Linked DNA regions of Homo sapiens. The protein of the gene in region 3 interacts with the protein of the main gene of each other region in a pairwise test. Each region holds a gene or a part of one and is shown on either strand. Other genes may lie near its edges.

Region 1 (3,500 bases), on a different chromosome or scaffold from region 3:
TTTGCATATCTAATGGAACCCAGCATGGATACTCTTTACTAAGAATTTGCCTCTGTGATTAGGTAAATTTTAATTTTCTCCCAACAGTGCCCTAACCGGCGAAATGAAAATGCTAACTATATTTTAGAAAAGTTTTAATTTGAACAACTTATGATTAAAAATACATTTTATAAATAATTTTTCCATAGACTTGATTGAGGATTGTTGCAAACTTTACAAAAAGATACACTGCAACAACAGATTAAAGAAATTACAAAAAATATAGCTATACCCCTATTTAAAAATACAACATTATACATCACACAGCATTTTCTTTGTGCAAAATGTTTAAGGGAATGCTGTGTTAGGCATGTCAAGCATATTTGCTTAGAGGGAAGTAAACTTTAATACAGTTACTTTGCATAATAGTATAGGCATAGCTAAAATAATGGATTTTTCCCCCTAGAAGTTAATATATCTTAGAGTTCAACATTTTACTTTTATTTTGTAGGATTGAAAGCTAAACTTAGCTTTATACAAATATATGTGTGTGTGTGTGTGTGTGTGTGTGTGTATATATATATATGTATGAAAACAACTATCTGATTTCACATTGAACAAATCCCCAACGTATTTACAGTATTTTCAGAGAATGTGTTCTCCAAATCAGTCTGTGTACATTTTCTCTATTAAACAACTCTTTAGAAAATTAAACTAAGCCAACATCTGTTGATTAATGGACATCCTCTGTTGAGACTTCCAGTTTTCGCTGTGGGACAAAGAGAGTTCCTAAGGAGGTTTTATTAGCACCCTCAAAATCCATGCAGGATGAGCTGGTTGGCTTGGTGGGTCCACCTGGGGTACGGAAGAAACTTTCGGCCACTAATTGTGACCCTTTGGGTGTCACAGGAACAGGCTGATTGGAAAGAGAAGAATGGACAAAAGAAGTCAACCACACACAGGTACATAGTCTTACCAGACTTGGAAGATTGGGCTGGATGAATGTATTGCACATTGGGAAACTGGCGTATCTTGAAATTGGCGAGGGAAGCTTTGGTGAGTTTTACATTCTCAATTATTTTTGTTAGGGGAGAGACAAAAATCTCATGATAACCCAACAATATGGATGCCTTGGACACTCTTCCTGGGTTCTGGAAGAAACATAGGCCTTCAATCTCCTGACTTTCCCATCCTTTCCCTCTCCAAAGAGGAAAAGCAAAAGCCAATCTCTTATGACACAGATACTTGGGGCTTAGTAATTCCAGGAAAAATTAAATTAAGTAGAAAGCCTCTCACCTGTTGTGCCCCTGTCACAGCAACTGATTGTCCATTTGGCTGGCTCTGGCCTGGGACTGGTGAGTCATAGTTGGTGGCCCTTCCTTGCTGAGTGCCTGCATTTTCTGGTGCGACATTAACAGACTCTATTCTTGGAGACACAGGAACGATTCCAGACCCAGGGCTGGCAGACAACTGCACATTGGGTGAGATGAGTCCCAGGTGCTGCAGGGTGAAGTTTACAATGGCTGAGCTTGGGTTCTGGATGGGAACAGGGTGGCTTGAAGCGAGAGCCGGGCTGTTCCCGACAGGTACGGCTGCCACGGAAGTTGGTGAGACCATTAGCTTCAACGGTGTTACATGAAAAGAGGGAAAATTAACAGCAGTGAGTTCAGATGATGTCACTGGAATAACACCTGGAAGGAAAAGGGGGAAGATATCTTAAAAGCACAGGCATTTATCCAAGAAGTTGACAAGGCTTAAGTGAACTTGAGACCGGCCCACATCTGGTTAGTGTTTTATGTGCACTCACCTGCAATTGGGGAGCTGTAAATCCTGTGGTTTGGGGAAAGAGCACTTGAGTTTTCTTTACCAGACAAAATGGACTCTGCCCCCAGGGATGAGCACTGCGTGAGAGGGATTAGGTATCCTGATGGGAACAAGGTCTAGAAAACAAGGAGGAAGGGTTTATTTTACACACAAATACAGGAAGAAAAATGGCCACGTGCCTCTTTCAGGACTAATATCCCTTGGTGGTTGCCTCATTGGACCAAAGCCTCCAGCGGAGTGGGCTGCAGGCAGGCTGGTCACCTGGCTCCTAGAGGAGAATACCCTCCCACCCTTCCCAATGCTTGCCCCGAATAATGCAGAACATGTTTCTTAAATGCCACCTGTGGTCTTAGGACACCTTTGGATGATGGCACTGACCCTGCTTAGGGGTAAGGATTCATCCAGCACACCACTCTTAAACTGATAACTTAACTCTTGCTACTGGACTCCTTGGTATGATGTAGTAGTAATTGATTGTTCTTGAATTATGTAGAACGGTATTTCCCAAAGGGCATTCTGAGGGACCTGAGGTCCATGGGTTGCAAACAGGCATTACCTGATTCTTGGTCAAATATAATTGGAAAATACTGAATTAAACAAAGTCAAATGGTGTCTTTATTAGAGAATTTCCAAGAGATTTTAATGGTGGCATGCCTTAAAATTCTCCAAGTGGGGCACACAGCAGGTAGCATTTCCCAAACTATTTGGCAACTATATTTTCAGTAGGCAATTAAGGAGGACTAGTATTCTAAGGAAACACTTTAAATGACATTGATTTAGAGAAAGGGGGCTAAACTATTGGCCATGTGCCAATTCCCACTCCCTGCCTGTTTTTATAAATAAAGTTTCATTGGAACACAATCATACTCATTCATTTATGTACTGCCTATAGCAACTTTCCTGCTACAATGGCAGAGTTGACTAGGTGCAACAGAGCCCATATGGCCTTAAAACCCAAAAAATGTCTACTATCTGGCCCTTTAAAGAACGTTTGCTGGCCCCTGATTTAAAACAGAAATTATATAAGTAAAGATTTCTTTCTAGTACTGCTTGCTCTAATGATAACAAGCAGTCTTAAAATACGCAAAGTACACCAGAGTTAAAAAAATTACAAATAAGAGAACTGATTAATTCATATTAGAGACGCACATGCCATTGAGCAAAAGCTTTAGGCAATAAAGTTATATTGCAACTAGAAAAGGCCCAAGGGTAGGGTTGCATGTACCTCCCAACATGCCTATTAGATCACTGTACTTTCCCAAACAGAAAAAGTTTACACGGGTGCCTGAACTGCATGAAAAGTCTGCTTTAGCCTTACCATGAGCGGGACTGGCAAAAGCTAAAAACCGCTCTTATAAACTAGGGACCTCCTTTTTTCTTCCTTCAGACCTTTCTTCTCTCCATTGTCAAAACAAGTTTAATCTAGTTGTTAATAGGTCTTTTCCTTGGGAACCAGGAAATTCAGAATCCACAAAGCTAAAAGTATACTACAAGCTTTTAATTTTGTTTCTTAAGTACTTGGTCCCACTCAAAATCTCTACTAGTAGGTGCCTTGAAAACTGCAGGAAGAGAGAATTTTTAAGGGGCAAATTTAGGTGCTTTATGAAGACCTGCGCTCTATTAGCTTTAGTTATATTCTCTCATGGTACAAATTATTCTGACTGCTGGTTTAACTCTTTCAAGTCTTCAGTAAAACC
Region 2 (3,500 bases), on a different chromosome or scaffold from region 3:
CAATAAACCCAACACCAACGATTTACTGGGCAAAAAGAAACAATTACAGCATGATTATCAGTACACTAAAGCATGAACTTTGCAGGGAGATAAGAAAACAGCATACAAGCCCATACAGAAGCTACATAAAAGCTGTCCTGAAAGTGACTATAATCACTAAATGGATGGCACAGGTAATGTATAAGAAGTCAGAGCTCATGAGCTCTGCGTGCTGGAGGTTTCATACAGAAATACAAAGTACATCACATTTGAAGGAGAGGGTATTTCCAGAAGGAAGACATGGCTCTCAGACAAAGGACAGAATTATGAAATTAGGCAACCAAAAGTGGGCAGCAGGCTAGCGAAGCGCAGAAGTGGAGAAGTGGCCACTGGAGAGAGACATTGGAGCTGTCCCTGCAAAATGCAGACCATGGAGAGCTTCTGAATGCAGAAGGGATCTAAACCACTTAGTAGTAGTAAAAGAAAAGCAAATGCCTTTTAAGAATGTGACAAAGGCTCATTTACTAAAATGGAAAATAAATTCTAATGTTTCAGATGTTTCACCTTTCAGATTAGGCTAAATAAAGTTTAAGGACACACAATAGACAATGATACACTCTGCTGCTGGGGGATTGTTTGGCTGGCCTCTGAAGAACACTAGCTCTCAAAAGCACAAATACACATATTCCTTTGACCTAATACTCTCATTACAATTTTAGCAACTTGTCCCAGAGATCTACTCCTAAAGTAAAAATCACAGTACAAGGATTTGTTTTAGTAATAAAAGCTTGGAAACCACTAATCCTGTATTTATCCACACTTAGTAGTGTGTATCCACACTTAGGTTAAATCTCACAACCATGGGGTCAGATAGGACCTTAGTTATCTAGTTTAATGTCCTTATTTAACAAAGAAAAACCAAGATTTGGAAAAGTTAAGATCAATGATGCTCATCAGAATGGCTCAAACAAAAAAGAAAAAACACAATGTTTGTGAGGATGTGGAGCAACTAGATGTTAACTTAGGTTAATTAAATTAGGATAAACCCACACAGTGGAATACCATGTAGCCATGAAAAAGAATAGAGACTAAACAGCAATGTGGTGTCACAGAGTGGCTCCTGAACAGAAAAAGGACACTAGTGAAAAATCTAGCAAAAACCAAATAAAGTTTGGGGTTCATTTAATGGTAATATACCACTGTTGGTCTCTTTGTTGCGACAAATGTGCCACGATCACATGCTAACTACAGGAGAAGCTGGGTGAGGTGTATACAGGAACTCTATGTACCATCTTTGTGACTTTCTGTATACCTAAAATTATTCCAAAATAAAAACTGTTATTTAAAAAGAGACTGGAGAAAACAGTATGTGAACTGATATCCAAAATGTAGTGGAAGAAAAAATGCAAAAATTACTTACCATTTTATACTGTTGATAGATATAGAAAAGGATTATATATACTCATACAAGCATATGTATAGAGTATCTCTGAAAAAATATTTGGAAAATTGAGAAGAGGAACCAGGAAACTTACTTTGCACTATATACACTTTTGAAACATGTTTTCATGTTTCCTTCTTCATCTTTAGAATTTTTATATTATGTTTGTATAATCACCTTTAAAAATAAAAAGGAACTTCAAAACTGTAAATTTTATCCTATATGGAATGGTGGCCTACCAACCAGATGATTCTGAATGAAGAAATGACAAATCTCACAACTATGGGGTCAGACAGGGCCTTAGTTATCTACTTTAATGTCCTTATTTGACAAAGAAAAACCAATATTTGGAAAACTTAAGATCAATGATGCTCATCAGAACGGCTCAAATGAAAAAGAAAACACACAATGTTTGTGAGGATGTGGAGCAACTAGATGTTTCTGAATCACTTCAGAAACTGGCCTTTGTAGATGGGGAAGCTGCAAATTTACATACCCTTTATGACCTAATAATTTCATTCCTAGGTTTGGACTCCATGAAAATGCCTGCACATGTGCACCAGATATGCTGTAATGTTCACAGCAACACTAATTTACAGCCCAAGCAAAACAGGCCAAGTGTCCAATGGTAGAAAGAAACTGCAATACAATTCACAGAACACTATGCAGCAAGGAAAAATAAGATACAGATACATGTAACATACAATGGAACACTATGCAGCAAGGAAAAACAAGGTACAGACATGTAACAATCTCACAGTGCAGGGGGCAGCAGCAAGGCTCAGAAGCTCGCATAGTGTGTAATTCCATTTCTAGAAAGTTCAAAACCAGGAAGAACTTATCTATGCTATTAGAAAGCAAGATGTTTACTTTTGAAAGAGAGAGGTGGCAGCTTGGGCACAGTGGCTCACACCTGTAATCCCAGCACTTTGGGAGGCCGAGGCAGGTGGATTCACAAGGTCAGGAGATCGAGACCATCCTGGCTAACACGGTGAAACCCCACCTTTATTAAAAATACAAAAAAAAAATTAACTGGGCGTGGTGGCACATGCCTATAGTCCCAGCTACTCAGGAGGCTGAGACAGGAGAATCGCTTGAACCTGGGAGGCAGAGGTTGCAGTGAGCCTACACTGTGCCACTGCACTCAGGCCTGGGCAACAGAGCGAGACTCCATCTCAATGAAAAAAAAAAAAAAGAAAGAAAGAAGAGGTAATGATGGGAGGGGATAGGAGGGAAACTTCTGGGATACTGGTAATGTTTTATTGCTTGACTTAGAGGCTAGTTATACAAGTGTGTGGAGTTTGTGATAATTCATTATGTTGTACTCCTATATACACATGTATCTATACGTTACACTAATACTTCAACACAAGTTAAATTTGTTTTTTGTTTGTTTGTTTGTTTTCCAGAGACACGGTCTAGCTCTGCTGCCCAGGCTGGAGTACACTGGTATGATCAAGCCTCACCGCACCCTTGAGTTCTTGGCCTCGTCATCCTCTTGCCTCAGCCTCCCAAAGTGTTAGGATTATAGGAGTGAGCCACTATACCAGGCCGAATTAATTTCTGTAAATGAATTTAGGAGATACTCTATGAAATGTAAACTAGTTTAAATATAAAGAGGTATTGTTGAAAATAGAAATAATGGCTTAAAAGAGAATAAAAGCTAACTAAGTATAACCAAATCTTTCTTGGAAATACAAATACCACTTGGCTCTTCTTGGAAAGAGGTACTTTTATCACTTAGTAACAAACTCATGTGAAGTTATTATCTATGCCAATGTATTTGTAAAAAGAAACAAATGACAAGAATCAACTTACCATCCTCTTTAAGCACATGGCAATAAAATTCTCCAGGACTATATATCACACAGACCACAACATCTACTGTTTGGTCAACACCAAGTTCAACCCATGTCCACTCCAATGGATTTACTTTTCCTTCCACACCCAAGGGAACTGTGAAAATAATTAAACATTAAATGGACATAGTGGAGGAGGGATGTAGCGAGGTTGGGGTGGCTGAGGAACCCGCTTTTGAAGAACTGAATTTCCACTGACTTTTTAAGTGCCTTTATAGGAA
Region 3 (3,500 bases):
ATGAAATATTATGCAGCCATTACCAAGCAATTTTGGGAGACACAAATAAATAAACTGGGGTATTAGAAGAGCAATTCAGAAACTCCTCAATGCTCTCAGGCACAGGTTAAAGAGCCTGGGCTTGACAGTCAGGCTAGAACCCTGTAAAGATTTCAAAGTTAACATGTTTTATCCTTTAAGAAATAAACTGATAGTAAGAGAGATACTCTTCAAAACTGGAACCCTATCTGCAACGCCTTACCTGAATAAACACAGATGTCCTCTTTGCAGGGTCCCACAGGAACTCCACTGTATTTAGTTGAGTTGGATTAGCCCTAGGATCGATTATACCCACAGACATCGGGATATCTGAGAAACAAAATGGTAATCATTGAACAATTTTGAGGGCCACTCAGTTTTAAATAAGAAAGCATTGATTCTTATATTACTCAATGTAGCTACCAAGATTTTTGTATATCACATCCTAAATTTCTTTGTTTTTTTTTTTTGTCGTTGTTGTTGTTTTTTATGGAGTCTTGTTCTGTTGCCCAAGCTGGAGTGCAGTGGTAACAGGCCTGGAGTGCAGTGGCACCATCTCAGCTCACTGCAACCTCTGCCTCCTGGGTTCAAACGATCCTCCTGCCTCTGCCTCCTGAGTAGCTGGGATTACAGGCCCGTGCCACCACGCCCGGCTAATTTTTTTGTATCTTTAGTAGAGATGGGGTTTCACCATGTTGGCCATGCTGCTCTCAAACTCCTGACCTCAGGTTATCCACCCACCTTGGCCTCCTAAAGTGCTGGGATTACAGGCTTGAGCCACTGTGCCCAGCCCACACCTTAAATTTCTTTTTTGTCAATGAAAATATTTGATTAGAGTAAAATTGACTTAAGTACTTTGCTTGAGCACCTTTTTTCCTCTTTAAAAAGTTTTTAAAATACGGCAATTAAAAAAATTATTTGGCCAGGCACGGTGGCTCACACCTGTAATCCCAGCACTTTGGGAGCCCAAGGCAGGCGGATCATGATGTCAGGAGTTCGAGACCAGCCTGACCAACATGACGTAACCTCATCTCTACTAAAAATACAAAAATTAGCCGGCCGTGGTGGCCCACACCTGTAATCCCAGCTACTCAGGAGGCTGAAGCAGGAGAATTGCTTGAACCTGGGAGGTGGAGGTTGCAGTGAGCCGGAGATCGAGCCACTGCACTCCAGCCTGGGTGACAAAGCAAGACTTCATCTCAAAAAAAAAAATTATTTTTAGGCCAGGCGTGGTGGCTTACACCTGTTATCCCAGCACTTTGGGAGGCCAAGGTGAGCGGATCACCTGAAGTCAAGAGTTCAAGACCAGCCTGGCCAACATGGCGAAACCCCGTCTCTACTAAAAAATACAAAAATTAGCCAGGCATGGTAGTGGGCATCTGTAATCCCAGCTACCTGAGAGGCTGAGGCAGAGAGAACTGCTTGAACCAGGGAGGCGGAGGTTGCAGTGAGCCAGTATTGCGCCACTGTGCTCCAGCCTGGGTGACAGAGCAAGACTGTCTCGAAAAACAAAAAAATCATTTTTAAATTGAGAAATAATAATTGTACATATTCATGGGCTATATAGTGATGTTTCAATACATATAATGCATAGTGATCAGATCAGGGTAATCAGCATATTCATTGTCTCAAACATCTGTCATTTCTTTGTGTTGGGAATGTTTAGTATCCTCCTTCTAGCTTAAAATATGGCAATTTAAAGGCAGTTTCCTTTTAATTTGTTAAAATCCTATTTAAGGTGGATTAAGTCTACACTATCATGAAAACTGTAATTTATAATCTATTTCAACTACAGTTTGAAAATTAGTTTCATTGCCAAAAGCACATTAAGAGTATTGCTATTGAAGGGGTGCAGCAGAGTGTCTATATGAAGGTAGAAAGCATTATATCATGAATGAAAGTGGGAAAATTTTAACATAAAGATTGATGCAGGCCAAGCGTGGTGGCTCACGCCTGCAATCCCAGTACTTTGGGAGGCCAAGGCGGGTGGATCATTTGAGGTCAGGAGTTCGAGACCAGCCTGGCCAACATGGTGAAAACTTGTCTCTACTACAAATATAAAAATTAGCTGGGCGTGGTTGTGGATGCCTATAATCCCAGCTACTCAGGAGTCTGAGGCATGAGAATGGCTTGAACCCGGGAGACAGAGGTTGCAGTGAGCCGAGATCATGCCATTGTACTCCAGCCTGGATGACAGAGCAAGACTCTGTCTCAAAAAAAAAAAAAAAAAGATGGTTGATGCTGACTTACCAAGTCATCAAATAATCCTATAACAGAGTGACAAATCTTTACTTAAAAGGGAAGCAAGAATTAATGGGTTTGAGTAGAACTTTTCTTTCCATTCCACACAGCAGATATTCAAATAGCATTCCCTGATTTCTCCTATTAATGATCAAACTGGGGAGTTAAGGCCAGGTAATATGTATTATCAGAACTGTGGTATTAACTATACTACTGTTTTGGTATCAATGATTCAAACAATAGAGCATCAAGTGGGTCCCACTCCACAATATTAGTTGTGTTAGATTCATCTTAAGGTCAACTTATCATACAGATATCAGGATCACTGCATGAGAACCAATGTTTTCTCAGGTAAAATTAGTAGCAGTTAAATTTTTCTTAACAACTATGTTTACCAAAAGGAAATTTTAACCAATTAGAAATCAGAGAGGCAGACACCATGAAAAGTGACTGCATGTGTATTTGTGAAGATCTTTCCTTTATACCCTATGACTTAGGAAAAACAAATTCTACTCTGTGTAGCAACGTGGGAAGACACAACTTAACTGCAAACCAAGTGACATAGCTTCTAATACCAGAACTCCCACTTTATAGTGCCTGGTTCTCAGGCACTAGTAAAATGAAGGAACTTTCAGCATGCTGGGGAAAAAAGTCTGCCCCTCTTTACAAACGCAAAACAAAATATCAGATCCTGAGCAGCCAAAACAATCGTGAAATAGAACAAAGTTGGAGTTCTCATGCTTCACGACTTCCAAACTGACTATAAAGCTACACTTAGCAAAATAGTGAGGTATAGGCATAAAGACAGACATTTAAACAAATGGAATAGAATAGACAGCCTACAAATAAGTATTCAAATATATGGTCAAATGAGTTTTGACAAGGGTGCAAGACCATTCAGTGGGGGAAAGAACAGTCTTTTCAACAAACGGTGTGGAGAAAACTGGGTATCCACATGCAAAAGAATGAAGTTGGGCCCTTCTTTCTGTATATGGTTTACCATACAACCTTTTTTGTATATGGTTGTACCATATACAAACACGAACTCAAAATGGACCTGTGACCTGAATATAAGACCTAAAACTATAAAACTCTTAGGAGAAAACATATGGGAAAAGCTTCTTGGCACTGAATTTGGCAATGATTTCTTGGATGTGGCACCAAAAGCACAGGGAATTAAAAAAAATTAGATAAATTGGACCACCTCAATGTAAAACTTTAGTGCATCAAAGGATAGTATC
Region 4 (3,500 bases), on a different chromosome or scaffold from region 3:
GAGTTCGAGACCAGCCTGAGCAACATGGAAAAACTCCAACTCTACAAAAATATAAAAGTTAGCCAGGCATGGTGGCAAGCGCCTGCAGTCCCAGCTATACTCCCAGCTACTCAGGAGGCTGAAGGAGGAAGACAACTTGAGCCCGGGAGGGTAAGGCTGTGGCAAGCCAAGATCCTGCCACTGCACTCCAGCCTGGGTGACAGAGCAAGACTCTGTCTCAAAAAAAAATAAAAAATAAAAATAAACCAGTCTATATGGAATATCATAAACAGTTAAAAGATTTGAGTTAATTTTAAGTTACTGTTTCTAAGTCTAATAACTTACATCATCATTTGGTCACTACTGAGTTATGTACACATCACAATCCACTGAAAAAGATTACATCTACTCACACTAAAATAGGAACTAAGGATCAGGAATCTGTTTTCAGAGTGGTCTGCTCAGCCGGACGCAGTGGCTCACGCCTGTAATCCCAACACTTTGGGAGGTCGAGGCGGGCGGATCGCGAGGTCAGGAAATCAAGACCAACCTGGCTAACGTGGTGAACCCCCGTCTCTACTAAAAATACAAAAATTAGCCAGGCATGGTGGCGTGTGCCTGTAATTCTAGCTACTTGGGAGGCTGAGGCAGGAGAATCCCTTGAACCCAGGAGGCGGAGGTTGCAGTGAGCCGAGATCACGCCACTGCACTCAAAAAAAAAAAAAAAAAAAATGAGTGGTCTGCGCACAGGAAAGAGCAAATAACACAAAGTAATTAGGAGACAACAATCTCGAATTCATAGAATTTTGGAATTTTAGAATCCTACTCTTTCAATCTGGCAAATACTTATGAAAAATGAGTTAAATCTTATGCAACCAAGGGTCCCAAGGTCCACAGTAACAATTACAGCTATCAGTTATATGCACAACCATTTCCCAAAAACAGAATCTATAAATCTAAGCCAACTATCTGAATCTTTGTTACACTAAAATGAATATATCCAACAAAACACTGTAAGAACTACCTAATTTAGTTTTTAAAGATCTGAGTTAAAATAACCTTAAAGACGGAGCTGGTGCTATTTTTTTCCCCTTATTTTCCCAAGTAGTCCCACTCTAATTTTATTTTTTTAAATATGTAACATAAATATATATTTCTTACTCAGGAAAGCAGAAGCCTTATGGTTTAATACAAAGCCCACTAAGTGACGGGATACTTTCTCAATTGCTATAATCACACACACACACACACACACACACACATTTTTTTTTTTTCCCTGAGACAGAGTCTTTGCTCTATCACCCAGGATAGATGCATTGGTGTGATCATGGCTTACTGCAGCCTCAACCTCCTGGGCCCAAGTGATCCTCCCACCTCAGCCCCTTGAGTAGCCAGCTGGGAGTATAGGTGCACACTACCACGCCTGACTAATTTTTTTTATTTTTTGTTTTAACAAAGTTTCCCTATGTTGCCCAGGTTGGTCTTGAACTCCTGAGCTCAAGTGATCCTCCCACTTGAGCTCAGCCTCCCAAAGTGCTGGGACTACAGGCATGCACCACCACACCTGGCTTTTAGTTGCTTTAGACAACAAGTTATTGTTTGAAAGATACATAAGCCAGAAACCTTAACTATTTCTAGTTGGGAGGGAGGTTAGAGTTATAGAAGTTAAGTTTCACACAGCTTAATGTGATCCAGCAACGGTGTTAGGTAACTCAAAAAGCAGCTCCAGTGATGACAGACACAGTGATATTTTAAAAAATTGTTTTAAGAACTATAAGAAAAGTTTAAGAAGATTGTTTTAAGAACTATAAGAAATGGGAAAAAGTAGTTATTTATAAATACATTTCATACTTAATTTTAAGTGTATACTTGTAAGCAAAAGCAACAAATATTAAAAGCAGACATTTAATTATTTCAATTATATCTTCAAAAAATTTTATGTTCAACTCTACCAAAAATAATCTGAGGGAAAAGCTCATTTAAAAAAATTAAATATCTTTTAGGCCATTTTATGTGGGCATTATAGTACTTTTCCATGTCATACAGCTATCCTATCCAAATAACTCTGAATCTTATTTACTTATCAATTATAATATACTGCTATAATTTAGGTCTTAATGATACTTCCCTACAGATGAAGAATCTCATCATCATAGTTTATGAAATTAGTTCTTTTCAAGTTGTTTCCAAATATTTCCTCTGAGTAATAAATTTTCAAACACTGAGAAAGCAAGCAAAACTAAAAACAAATGAACTTCTCCAGAGTACTAAAACAGCTGCACAAAACTGATTAAGAAACAATTTTTTTAAATGTCTGCTAATCTTAATCCTTACAACCAAAAAAAGTTTTCTTGAGATTAAACTAGAGTTCTGAAGTAACAGGGTCCTTCCACAGGCTTACAAGTTTTTCTAAACATCTCTATAAATACTTTTAGCGTTTCGGGTTTTCTTTTTCTTGAGATGGCATCTCACTATGTTGCCCAGGCTGGTCTTGATCTCCTAGGCTCAAGCAACCCTACCGCCTTAGAGTCCCAAGTAGCTGGGATTACCAGCGTGCACTAAGAAGCCTGGCTCTATAAATCCCTTTAAAACTTCCTTTGTTATAAACATTACCCACACTTTACATGAAAAAATATCACAGATTAAAAAGTCTGTGTAAGTCACACAGTCACCTAATTTTGACTCTCCTGGAGACACTCATACAAACCTTTCATTCTTTTGATTTGAAACCCATGAGGGAAGCTATCCATTCCAAATGATACCTACTACCACGAAGCCAAAAAAAAAAAAAATGTGTTAATACAAAAATTAGCCCGGCATGGTGGGCCATGCCTATAGTCCCAGTTTCTCAGGAGACTGAGGTGGGAGGCTGGCTTGAGCCCGAGAAGTAGAGGGTACAGTAAGCCGAGATCACACCACTGCACTCCAGCTTAGGCAACAGAGCCAGATCCTATCTCAAAAAAAAAAAAAAAGTTTTAAAATGAATTATTGGCCAGGCACAGTGATTCATGCCAGTAATCCCAGCACTTCGGGAGGCCGAGGCAGGAGGATCCACTGAGGGTAGGAGTTCAAGACCAGCCTAGGCAACACAGCAAGACCCCCTCATCTTTAACAACAACAAAAAAAATTAGCCAGATACGGTGGCACAGGCCTGCAGTCCTGGCTACTTGAAGGCAGAGGTGGGAAGATCACTTGAGCCTAGGAGTTCGAGGCTGCAATGAGCTATGATCACACCACTGCACCCTAGCCCGGGCAACAAGGCCAGACCCTGTCTCTTAAATAAATAAAAATAAAACTGATAAATAGATAGATAAGTAAAATGAATTCTACTTACAGCTGCACGTCGGACATAAACAGGATGAGAAAGGTGCACGTTATTAAGTAGAAATAAAATGGAATCCAATGTGTAGTACTCTCTGGGTTGGCCTTCCTTTCCAGTCCTGAAATAATTAAGGCAAGATTTTTTTTACTGACAATTCTAATTCAACTCTTCAGGCTGGATTCATTTATATAAACAACTT

Evidence for each region.
Region 1: the proteins of TFCP2 (region 3) and E2F8 interact in binary tests that used the Homo sapiens proteins (3 or more experiments, as listed by UniProt).
Region 2: the proteins of TFCP2 (region 3) and TDRD1 interact in binary tests that used the Homo sapiens proteins (3 or more experiments, as listed by UniProt).
Region 4: the proteins of TFCP2 (region 3) and CDC73 interact in binary tests that used the Homo sapiens proteins (3 or more experiments, as listed by UniProt).

Annotation. Positions count from the first base shown.
Region 1 is NC_000011.10:19,223,946-19,227,445, forward strand, and holds the end of E2F8 (transcription factor E2F8), read right to left. Parts: intron 1,920-3,500; coding exon 1,787-1,919; intron 1,671-1,786; coding exon 1,276-1,670; intron 896-1,275; coding exon 713-895; 3' UTR 118-712; downstream 1-117. UniProt on the Homo sapiens protein: Atypical E2F transcription factor that participates in various processes such as angiogenesis and polyploidization of specialized cells.
Region 2 is NC_000010.11:114,213,853-114,217,352, reverse strand, and holds part of TDRD1 (tudor domain-containing protein 1), read right to left. Parts: intron 3,377-3,500; coding exon 3,239-3,376; intron 1-3,238. UniProt on the Homo sapiens protein: Plays a central role during spermatogenesis by participating in the repression transposable elements and preventing their mobilization, which is essential for the germline integrity.
Region 3 is NC_000012.12:51,110,636-51,114,135, forward strand, and holds part of TFCP2 (alpha-globin transcription factor CP2), read right to left. Parts: intron 349-3,500; coding exon 242-348; intron 1-241.
Region 4 is NC_000001.11:193,125,031-193,128,530, reverse strand, and holds part of CDC73 (parafibromin), read right to left. Parts: intron 3,420-3,500; coding exon 3,314-3,419; intron 1-3,313.